2 linked regions of the Homo sapiens genome follow. The protein of the gene in region 1 interacts with the protein of each later gene in a pairwise test. Each region holds a gene or a part of one and is shown in the gene's direction. Other genes may lie near its edges.

What was found. Proteins that work in one complex are often made in the same cells at the same time.
Region 2: the proteins of MAPK6 (region 1) and WWC1 interact in a two-hybrid assay, tested with the Homo sapiens proteins (one large-scale study listed by BioGRID and IntAct).

The regions. Positions count from the first base shown.
Region 1 is NC_000015.10:52,042,333-52,047,593, forward strand, and holds part of MAPK6 (mitogen-activated protein kinase 6), read left to right. Parts: intron 1-421; exon of another isoform or gene 422-501; intron 502-1,445; exon of another isoform or gene 1,446-3,332; intron 3,333-3,497; 5' UTR 3,498-4,128; coding exon 4,129-4,683; intron 4,684-5,261. UniProt on the Homo sapiens protein: Atypical MAPK protein. Phosphorylates microtubule-associated protein 2 (MAP2) and MAPKAPK5.
Region 2 is NC_000005.10:168,426,716-168,431,147, forward strand, and holds part of WWC1 (protein KIBRA), read left to right. Parts: intron 1-1,317; coding exon 1,318-1,426; intron 1,427-1,991; coding exon 1,992-2,072; intron 2,073-3,421; coding exon 3,422-3,508; intron 3,509-4,432. UniProt on the Homo sapiens protein: Regulator of the Hippo signaling pathway, also known as the Salvador-Warts-Hippo (SWH) pathway.

The DNA.
Region 1 (5,261 bases):
CTTCTCTTGTTACAATGTATAGTCTTCATCATCTGAGCACATAGTGATGACTCTGCAGTTCTCAGTGTAGGCAAAGCTCCTACCTTCCCTAGTATCACTTTTTACCCACTCTTACCTCGTTAAGTGCTGACCAGTCACTGAGAATTCTGAAAAGGCACTCGCATCCTTGAAGTTTCTAGTTTGTGAGGCTTGGTCTCAATAAAATTTAAGGGGGGCAGATGTGGATGGGGGTCTTGAGTAAGGATCTCTCATTTTCATGGCTTTCCTAATCTGGCTACAACTCCTACTATAGTGCTATTCTGTCAGATAACAGTGGTGTAATTTTTGACAAAGCATTATTTGTGCTTGACTAGATTGCTGTGAACTAGAAGTTTGAGAGAGAACTTGGAGATCTTACTGTTCTCATTTCATTTGTCTATAGAACTGACTTTACAGTGTACATTTATCAGAAATGTAAAACATGACTGAGCTTTAAGGAATTGTCTACGTTAAGGCAAGAAGGTAAGCGTGAACAAGCATTCTATTTCAGGTAGAGACTAGAGATGTAAAATTTAGGAAATAATGGAGCCTTTGAGAAATACTGGTTTTCTTGACCAGCCTGGGAAACATAGTGAAACCCCGTCTCTTCAAAAAATACAAAAATTAGCCAGGTGTGGTGACTCCTGCCTGTAGTCCCAGCTACTTGGGGGGCTGAGGGGCTGAGGTGGGAGGATTGCTTGAGCCCAGAATGCAGAGGTTGCAGTGAGTGGTGATCACGCCACTACACTCTGGCCTGGATGACAGAGCAATACCCTGTCTCAAAAAACAAACAAACTGGTTTTCCTAGGGTATTTAGTGGGGAGCGAGCAGGAAGAATCAAGATGTGTACAAACAGAAAAAACTTGGTGGGAGGGAGACATGCAGTATTAAAGCCCTTTTTAAAAATCTGAAACTTTTTTACCAATACAAAAATTATTTTTATTTTTTATTTATTCATTTTTTTTGAGACGGAATCTTGCTCTTTTGCCCAGGCTGGAGTGCAGTGGCGTGATCTCACCTCACTGCAACCTCCACCTCCCAGGTCCAAGCGATTCTCTTGCCTCAGCCTCCCGAGTAGCTGGGATTACAGGCACCTATCACCACGCTGGGCTGATTTTTGTATTTTTAGTAGAGACGGGGTTTCTCCATGTTGGTAGGCTGATCTCGAACTCACGACCTGAGGAGATCCACCTGCCTTGGCCTCCCAAAGTGCTGGGATTACAGGCGTGAGCCACCGCGCCTGGCCACAAAAATTTATTTTTATTACTTATTTCCACTATCACATGAGCTAGATCATATAACAACATTGAAAATCCACTGGCTAAAGACCAAAGACAGACTAATGGCTCAGCTAGATAATAGCAAATGATATGTTGGACTTAAGTTGTTTGATTTTTTTTTTTTTTTTTTTTTTTTTTTTTTTTTTGAGGCAGAGTCTCGCTGTGTCCCCCAGGCTGGAGTGCAATGGCAGGATCTCGGCTCACTGCAACCTCTACCTCCCTGCAACCTCTACCTACCTGGTTCAAGCGATTATCCAGCCTTACCCTCCTGAGTAGCTGGGACTACAGGCATGCGCCACCACGCCTGGCTACTTTTTGTATTTTTAGTAGAGACGGGGTTTCACCATATTGGCCAGGCTGGTCTTGAACTCCTGACTTCGTGATCTGCCTGCCTCGGCTTCCCAAAGTGTTGGGATTACAGGCGTGAGCCACCGTGTCCGGCCTTGAGATATTTTTTTAATTCAAAAGTTTATTCACAAACTTCAACTTTTAAGTGTTTTATTACAGATAGACTGGTAAGCTACAGAATTTTTAGGACTTTTTTTTTGGGGGGGCGGGCTAGGAGGGCTGATTTCTGAGAAGCAGAGAAAAACTTGTAGACAGGAGAAGCCGTTTCTGTTACAGTAAAATAAAGCTATTATACTATTAGTATCCTTCATGATATTAAGCAGATACAAGACCCGTTCTTATTTATTAAAAGAACTGAGGGATATAGTAAGTATCAGTTTTTATTAAAGCTGTCTTTCTCCTATTGGACAATGAGTTGCGTTTACTGAGGGCCAGAATCCTTTTGCTCATATCAGGTTTGCTCCTGCCTAGCATATAGTAGTTGCTCAATATATGTTTATATATTAAACGAATAAATTGGTGGCTTTATTCTTTCTGCCTAAAATATTGTCTGGTCTTATTTGTTAGGAATTCTGACCACCTGATTTTCCATAATGCCTCATATCTGGTATTCTGGGTACTCTGCAATTAGGCCATTAAGAAACTGAAAGAACCAAGTTGCATTTTTTTTTTTCCAGGCTGGCTAGGGAACCATCTACTGGAGTTGAGGCTATTTTTTCCTGCCCTTTTATAGGATATTTTTTAAAGTATGAAATATTTTAAGTGTACAGAGATCAATATAATGAACCTTCATATACATACCACCCAGCTCTATAAGATTCTAGTAATCTGCCATGTTTGTTATTTTAAAATAAATAACACATTAAAACGCAGATAAATGATTCTGGTCTCTTTCCTTAATCTCCGGGTAATCATTATGAATTTGGTATTTGTCTCATTTTTTTTTCCTTTTTTTTTTTTTTTTAGTTTTGCAATATACATATGTACTTACCAAAAAAAACTATTTTGCATGCATATAACTACTTATCTGTTCTCCTATTTTATGAAGTTGAGGTTGTTTCTAATTTTCTTTACCAAAAAAAAATGAGCATTTCTCTAGGGAGTTTACTGTGAAGAAAAATGGCCGGGTCATAGAGTACGCTATTTATTTATTCATTTATATGTTTATGCCAAATTGCTCTGAAGTTTTTACTAATTTAAACTCCAACCACTATTGTGTGAAAGTTTGTTTTTCTACACTCCTCAGACTTGACATTAACAGAGATGCATGTTTTTTCAATCTGAAATGTTCTCTTAAGGTAATCTTTTCCTATCAGTCACATTAAATACCTTTTCATAGGTATTATTCATTGTTCAAGTTTACTCTTATAAGTTGAAGAACATTATTTGCATATTTGTGCTGTTAGATTTTTGTTCATTGGATATTGATAGGCATAGTTAATAAGTAAACATGCTTTTTAACAAACTAACACATTGCAGGCTTCTTCTATATTCTTTTAGATATTTAGATAGATGTTACTAACGTTTTACCCCTCACAAAACTCAAGTTCTATAAAAATATTATGAACCTTCCCATACTTGTTGGCATTTCAGAAATGGTACAACCTAATGAGCCTGTTACCAAGAATCTAGTGTAGTGAAATCTGGAGCCCGGGCCAACGTGTGTGAATTGCTGATAACATTTTTGTAAGCTATTTTTGATTAAGGGTAATTTGTCACTTAATGACCATAATTAAGTTTAATGTACCAGTAGTAGTTTATTGCTAAATGCCTACTTTGTGTCATACTACAAATTTGAAGAAAAGAGTATTTCCTGCAATGGTGACTCTCTTCTTTTTCTCATCCCCCCAGGTTGTATCAGAGTAAGATGGACGGTAGCTTTGATTGTGATTGTGGTGAGCTGGAGCCACCTGATCACTAACAAAAGACATCTTCTGTTAACCAACAGCCGCCAGGGCTTCCTGTTGAAATAAATATATAGCAACAAAGGAAAAAAAGAAGCAAAACGGAAATAGTGCTTACCAGCACCTTAGAATGATGCTGCTCAGGACCAGTCCAACACTGAATGTATCTGCACTGTGAGGAGAATGTTCATAGAAGCCTGTTGTGTGCATATTTATTCACATTTTTGTTAAATGTTAAATCGTTTAGCACGGTAATCTGAGTGCACAGTATGTCATTTCATTCCGTTTGAGTTTCTTGTTTTCGTTAAATGTCTGCAGAGTTGCTGCCCCTTTCTTGAACTATGAGTACTGCAATCTTTTTAATTCTCAATATGAATAGAGCTTTTTGAGCTTTAAATCTAAGGGGAACTCGACAGGCCTGTTTGGCATATGCAATGAACATCAAGAAACCATCTTGCTGTGGAAGCATAATTATTTTTCTTCTCCCTTTTTGAAAGATCTTTCCTTTTGATGCCAGTTTTCTTCCTTGTTTACACAAGTTCAATTTGAAAGGAAAAGGCAATAGTAAGGGTTTCAAAATGGCAGAGAAATTTGAAAGTCTCATGAACATTCATGGTTTTGATCTGGGTTCTAGGTATATGGACTTAAAACCATTGGGTTGTGGAGGCAATGGCTTGGTTTTTTCTGCTGTAGACAATGACTGTGACAAAAGAGTAGCCATCAAGAAAATTGTCCTTACTGATCCCCAGAGTGTCAAACATGCTCTACGTGAAATCAAAATTATTAGAAGACTTGACCATGATAACATTGTGAAAGTGTTTGAGATTCTTGGTCCCAGTGGAAGCCAATTAACAGACGATGTGGGCTCTCTTACGGAACTGAACAGTGTTTACATTGTTCAGGAGTACATGGAGACAGACTTGGCTAATGTGCTGGAGCAGGGCCCTTTACTGGAAGAGCATGCCAGGCTTTTCATGTATCAGCTGCTACGGGGGCTCAAGTATATTCACTCTGCAAATGTACTGCACAGAGATCTCAAACCAGCTAATCTTTTCATTAATACGGAAGACTTGGTGCTGAAGATAGGTGACTTTGGTCTTGCACGGATCATGGATCCTCATTATTCCCATAAGGTATGTATAGAAAGCCAGCTGAGACAGATCTTTAAACTGATACACCTAATCAGGAATAGGTACTTATATTTTCTTTGTATATTGTGGCAGAATTTTTAATCTTATTAAACTTTACATAGTGCCTTTTTTCTGAAACAAGTCTCTCTGTTTGAAATGAAGGTGGAGTGGGATAATTAAATACAAATTTCTAAAAATACATGGTTATTATAATGAAATTTTAAAGTGTATGGTTATTTATTATAAATGAAATTCTCCCTTAGTTATTTAAAAGTGGAATATACTCTTCTTTCTTTGGGACAGAATTGTGGTAAGAGGGGATGCTATTTCAACTTTAGGTCTTTTGTTTTTGAGACAGAGTCTCACTCTGTCACAAAGGGTAGAGTGCTGTGGCGCCATCTCGGCTCACTGCAACCTTCATCCCCTGGATTCAAGCGATTCTTGTACCTCAGCCTCCCAAGTAGCTGGGATTACAGGTGCGTGCCATCATGCCCAGCTAATTTTTTTGTATTTTTAGTAGACAGGGTTTCACCGTGTTGGCCAGGCTGGTCTTGAACTCCTAGCCTCCAGTGATCTGCCTG
Region 2 (4,432 bases), on another chromosome or scaffold:
ACCCGCCTTGTCACCCATCGCCGTCCCCGGCCTGCCATGCCCTGGACTCTGTGCCCCTCAATGCTGCGAGCCCTTGCCCTGCTCCGGTCTGCCCGCAGGTGCTCAGAGGTGTTAGCTGTGAGGTTGTAAGATCTGGATCTGGCCTTCCCCGCTGCAAGGAGGGCAGGAATTGTCTTATTCATCTTTGTAGTTCTGAACATGGCAATGGGCCTGGCACATCGTGAGTGATCATTACTTGGGCAAGGAAGGAATGTGCAGCACGTGTTGAGTGCTTAGTTATGAGCCTCAGATCAGAGACTTTCAAGGGCCCCTGTTAAGGTTAGGGAAGAGGAGGAGCTGAATTCGGAGTGGAAAGGGATAGGCAGTGGAAGAACGGGTGCTTAATCTCTCCCTTCTCTGTCCTGAGGGTCCAGGGGCTGTTATTTTGCCCCAGGTGGGTAGGGATGGATCTGTTAGGTTGATGCAAAAGTAATTGCAGTTTTTGCCATTGAAAGTATGGATATCTACAGTGATAGGAACAGTAGTGGCAATAAGGATAGTTGTAATGAGTTTTGCAGAGCACTTTGCCTGCCTGCACCAATCTCTATATTAAGGACTTCCCTTATAATGTCTCGCTGAGTCCTGTCAACAGCCCTATAAGTAGGTATTATTATCCAAGTTTTACAAATGAGGCATCTGAGGCTTAACAGGATTAAGTCAGTATCTCAAGGTCATGAAGCAGTGAGTGGTGGAGCCGGATTTGAATCCAGGCAGTTCGACTCAAGAGCCTGGGATGGTAAAACACAAAATCACATGTGACTCCTTCCATCACCCTAAAGCAAACTTTTTTTTAATTTTTTTTTTTTTTTTTTTTTTTTGCTTTAGCATTTAGAGGTGGTTGGAATTTGGTGGAACCGTCTGTCTTCCATAGAGAGTGTATCAAAATTGGGAGTTCAGGCTCCCCGAATCCCAAAGTGTTGGGATTACAGTCGCTGACGCCTGTAATCCCAACACTTTGGAAGGCCAAAGCAGGCAGATCGCCTAAGACCAGGAGTTCAAGACCAGCCTGGGCAATATGGCAAAACCCCATCTCTACAACAAAATAATAATTCAAAAATTAGCTGGGTATGGTGGCACATGCCTGTAGTTCCAGTATTTGGGAGGCGGAGGTGGGAGGATCACCAGAACCCGAAGTGGTCGAGGCTGCAGTGAGCCATGATTGTGCCACTGCACTCCAGCCTGGATGAGTGAGACCCTGCCTCAAAAACAAAACAAAATTGGGAGTCGCAAAGGCAGTTTCCTGGTTCCTGAACCTGCCTTTCCATTTTCCTTCCCTAGCTGTGAATACGGCCCAGGGGTGTGGCCTGAAAGTGGCCTGTGTCTCAGCCGCCGTATCGGACGAGTCAGTGGCTGGAGACAGTGGTGTGTACGAGGCTTCCGTGCAGAGGTAGGTGTCTGGGTGCTGGCTCTCTCTGTGGCCCTGTAAGCCATGAACTCTGAATATCCAGAGCCTAGGCCTGTGGAGAGGCTTAGGTTTTGGCCCCCACAGTGTGTGGGAGGAGCCCCAAGAGGGCATGACCCCACCTTCCTCTTGGCTGCCCAAGGCACAGACAGCATAACTTTTCCTGGGGTTAGAGATGCTTCAGGTTTGGGGGAGTGCTAGTTCTGTGGTAGCTACGAAAAAGGTATATGGCTAAGGAGCAAGCACTAGAGAAAGGGAAGGCCCCTTAAGAGAGGAGTCCAAGCTGGGCATAGTGGTGTGAGTCTGTAATCCCAGCTACTTGGGAGGCTTCAGTGGGAGGATCACTTGATACAAGGAGTTCGAGACCAGCCTGGGCAACATAGTGAGCCCCCATCTCTAAAAAAAATTTTTTTTAATTAAAATTTAAAAAAGGACCTGAAGGGAAGCTGAGCAAACCCCAACTTTCCTTCCTGGGGATGTAACCTCAGCCTCCCAGAATAGTTTGTTCACTGTAGGGAAGCCTAACTCCTCCTCCCCTGTTGCCTTTCAGACTGGGTGCTTCAGAAGCTGCTGCATTTGACAGTGACGAATCGGAAGCAGTGGGTGCGACCCGAATTCAGATTGCCCTGAAGTAAGTGACGAGGACGAGGAGGACAGAAGGAACGGTCTGTGTGGGGTCCCTTCTTCATCCACAGCGTTCCCCAGCATTTACCTTCACAGCCGCCCAGGGTGGAAGGCAGCACCAGCAGGACCTGCTGGCCATTGCAGCTTCTTAACTGAAGGGATGCTGATTCGTTCCTCACCTCCCAGCCATCCGCTTTACAGATAGGAGAAATGAGGTTGGAGAAATGGGGTTTTAAAAGACCTTATGACTTGGCCCAACTCACTGAGCTGGCTGGTAGCAGAGCCAGGACTGGGACTGAGACCTCCTGCCTCTCAGTGTGTTTGTTCATTGTTGCTGTGGCTTTTGTCTTTCCATCCCATCTAGGTTTCATTGATCTGGATGGAAGTTGATCACTGGGGGCTGCAGCCCAGATTGGGTCAATACACACATGGTTGTTCTTTTTGTTTTCTTTTGTTGGGGGATGATATGATCTCAATTTTTTTTTTTTTTTTTTTTTGAGACAGGGTCTCACCTGTCACCCAGGCTGGAGTGCAGTGGTGTGATCTCAGCTCGCTGCAACCTCTGCCTCCTGGGTTCAAGCGATTCTCCTGCCTCAGCCTCCCAAGTAGCTGGGATTACAGGTGTGTGCCACCACGCCCGGCTAACTTTTGTATTTTTAATAGAGATGGAGTTTCACCATGTTGGCCAGGCTAGTCTCAAACTCCTGACCTCAAATGATCTGCCCGCCTTGGCCTCCCAAAGTGCTGAGATTACAGGCATGAGCCACCACACCTGGCCTTCAATATTTTTTAATAGGAATTAGTTGACAACATTTCCATATCATGAAATTTCACCCGCATTTATGGGTTCTTTTTAAAAATTCAGACAACTGGCTGGGTGTGGTGGCTCACACCTTTAATCCTGACACTTTGGGAGGCTGAGGCAGAGGAATCACTTGATTCCAGGAGTTCAGGACCAGCCCAGGCAACATGATGAAACCCCATCTCTACTAAAAATACACAAAATTAGCTGGGTGTGGTGGTGAACACCTGTAGTCCTAGCTACTTGAGAGGCTGAGGTGGGAGGATCACCTGAGCCTGGGAGGTCGAGGCTACCATGAGCCCCGATCATGCCACTGCACTCAACCTGGATGACAGAGTGAGACCCTGTTTCAAAACAAAAAAAAAATTTTCAAACAATTGGCAGCTCTAGCTCTACATCCCTGCATGGCAGCAAAGCACTGGGCCTGTGCTCTAGAGCTCACCATAGGCCCCAGGGCAGCCAACAGCCACGTCCTGTGACTTTTAATGGAGAGAAGGAATGAGAGAGATGAGTGTGTTACTAATAGGTACTTCATATGCCCCTTTTCATTTCAGGTATGATGAGAAGAATAAGCAATTTGCAATATTAATCATCCAGCTGAGTAACCTTTCTGCTCTGTTGCAGCAACAAGACCAGAAAGTGTGAGTATGTAGCTGGACAGGTGTATTTCATACCCTAACCCTCTGGAGTTACCCCTGGGGGTCACTTTTCTGCCCTGTCCTGATCCAGTTATGGGCCTTGTCAAGGCACTGTGGGTTTGTACTGCATATGACTGTGATGCTGAATGTCGGTGCTGTGCATGTGAATACAGGCACAACGGCAAGCACACCAACTGTAAAGACAAGCACTCTCTAGATGACTGTGTGAATTCCTGCCCCATTACGTGCTGAGCACCTGCTGCATGCCAGCTCTAGGAATGGGGTGGTGAGCAGATCCTTCCTGGGCCCTACCCTCCTGGACTTTGAGCCTCATGGAGAAGAATGGTCACAGTCTGTTTTATCTTCTCCTAAGCTCAAGTGTTTCTTGCAGAGAGAGATAGGTCTTCTGTTTCCAAGAGTCAACACCAGTCACTGCTTCTCTTGGAGGGGTGTGACTGCGTGTTACCTTGATGCTGGTAGGATGCAAACACCTGCTCTGTCTGCCTGTGGGCTCCTCCCATGGTAGATGGGTTTATCCTTTATTGCACTCATCTGCCTCCAAGTTTTCTCTGATCGTAAGGCCTGGAGGGTGGCAACAGAAGCTTATGTGTCTGTGGTCTACACTCAGCCAGCCTGTGAGGGTGGCACATGTGGGAAGAAGAAAGGGCAGGAAGGCGGACAAAACGGAAGGAAGACAAGATGGGATGCTTGGGTCAATTTCAGTCTTCTGCCCACACAGACAGTGCCAGGCTGAATAGCCTCCTCCATAGCTCACTGGTACTCATGCAGGGGCATCTGTGGGATAATGCCTAGAAGTGAAGGGTCTGGACCAAAGGACAAATGCATCTGGAATTTTGTTCGATTTGTCAAAGTTCCTTCCAGTGTATAGGGGCCTGATTCCCCAGATTCCTCACTTCTACAAACTCT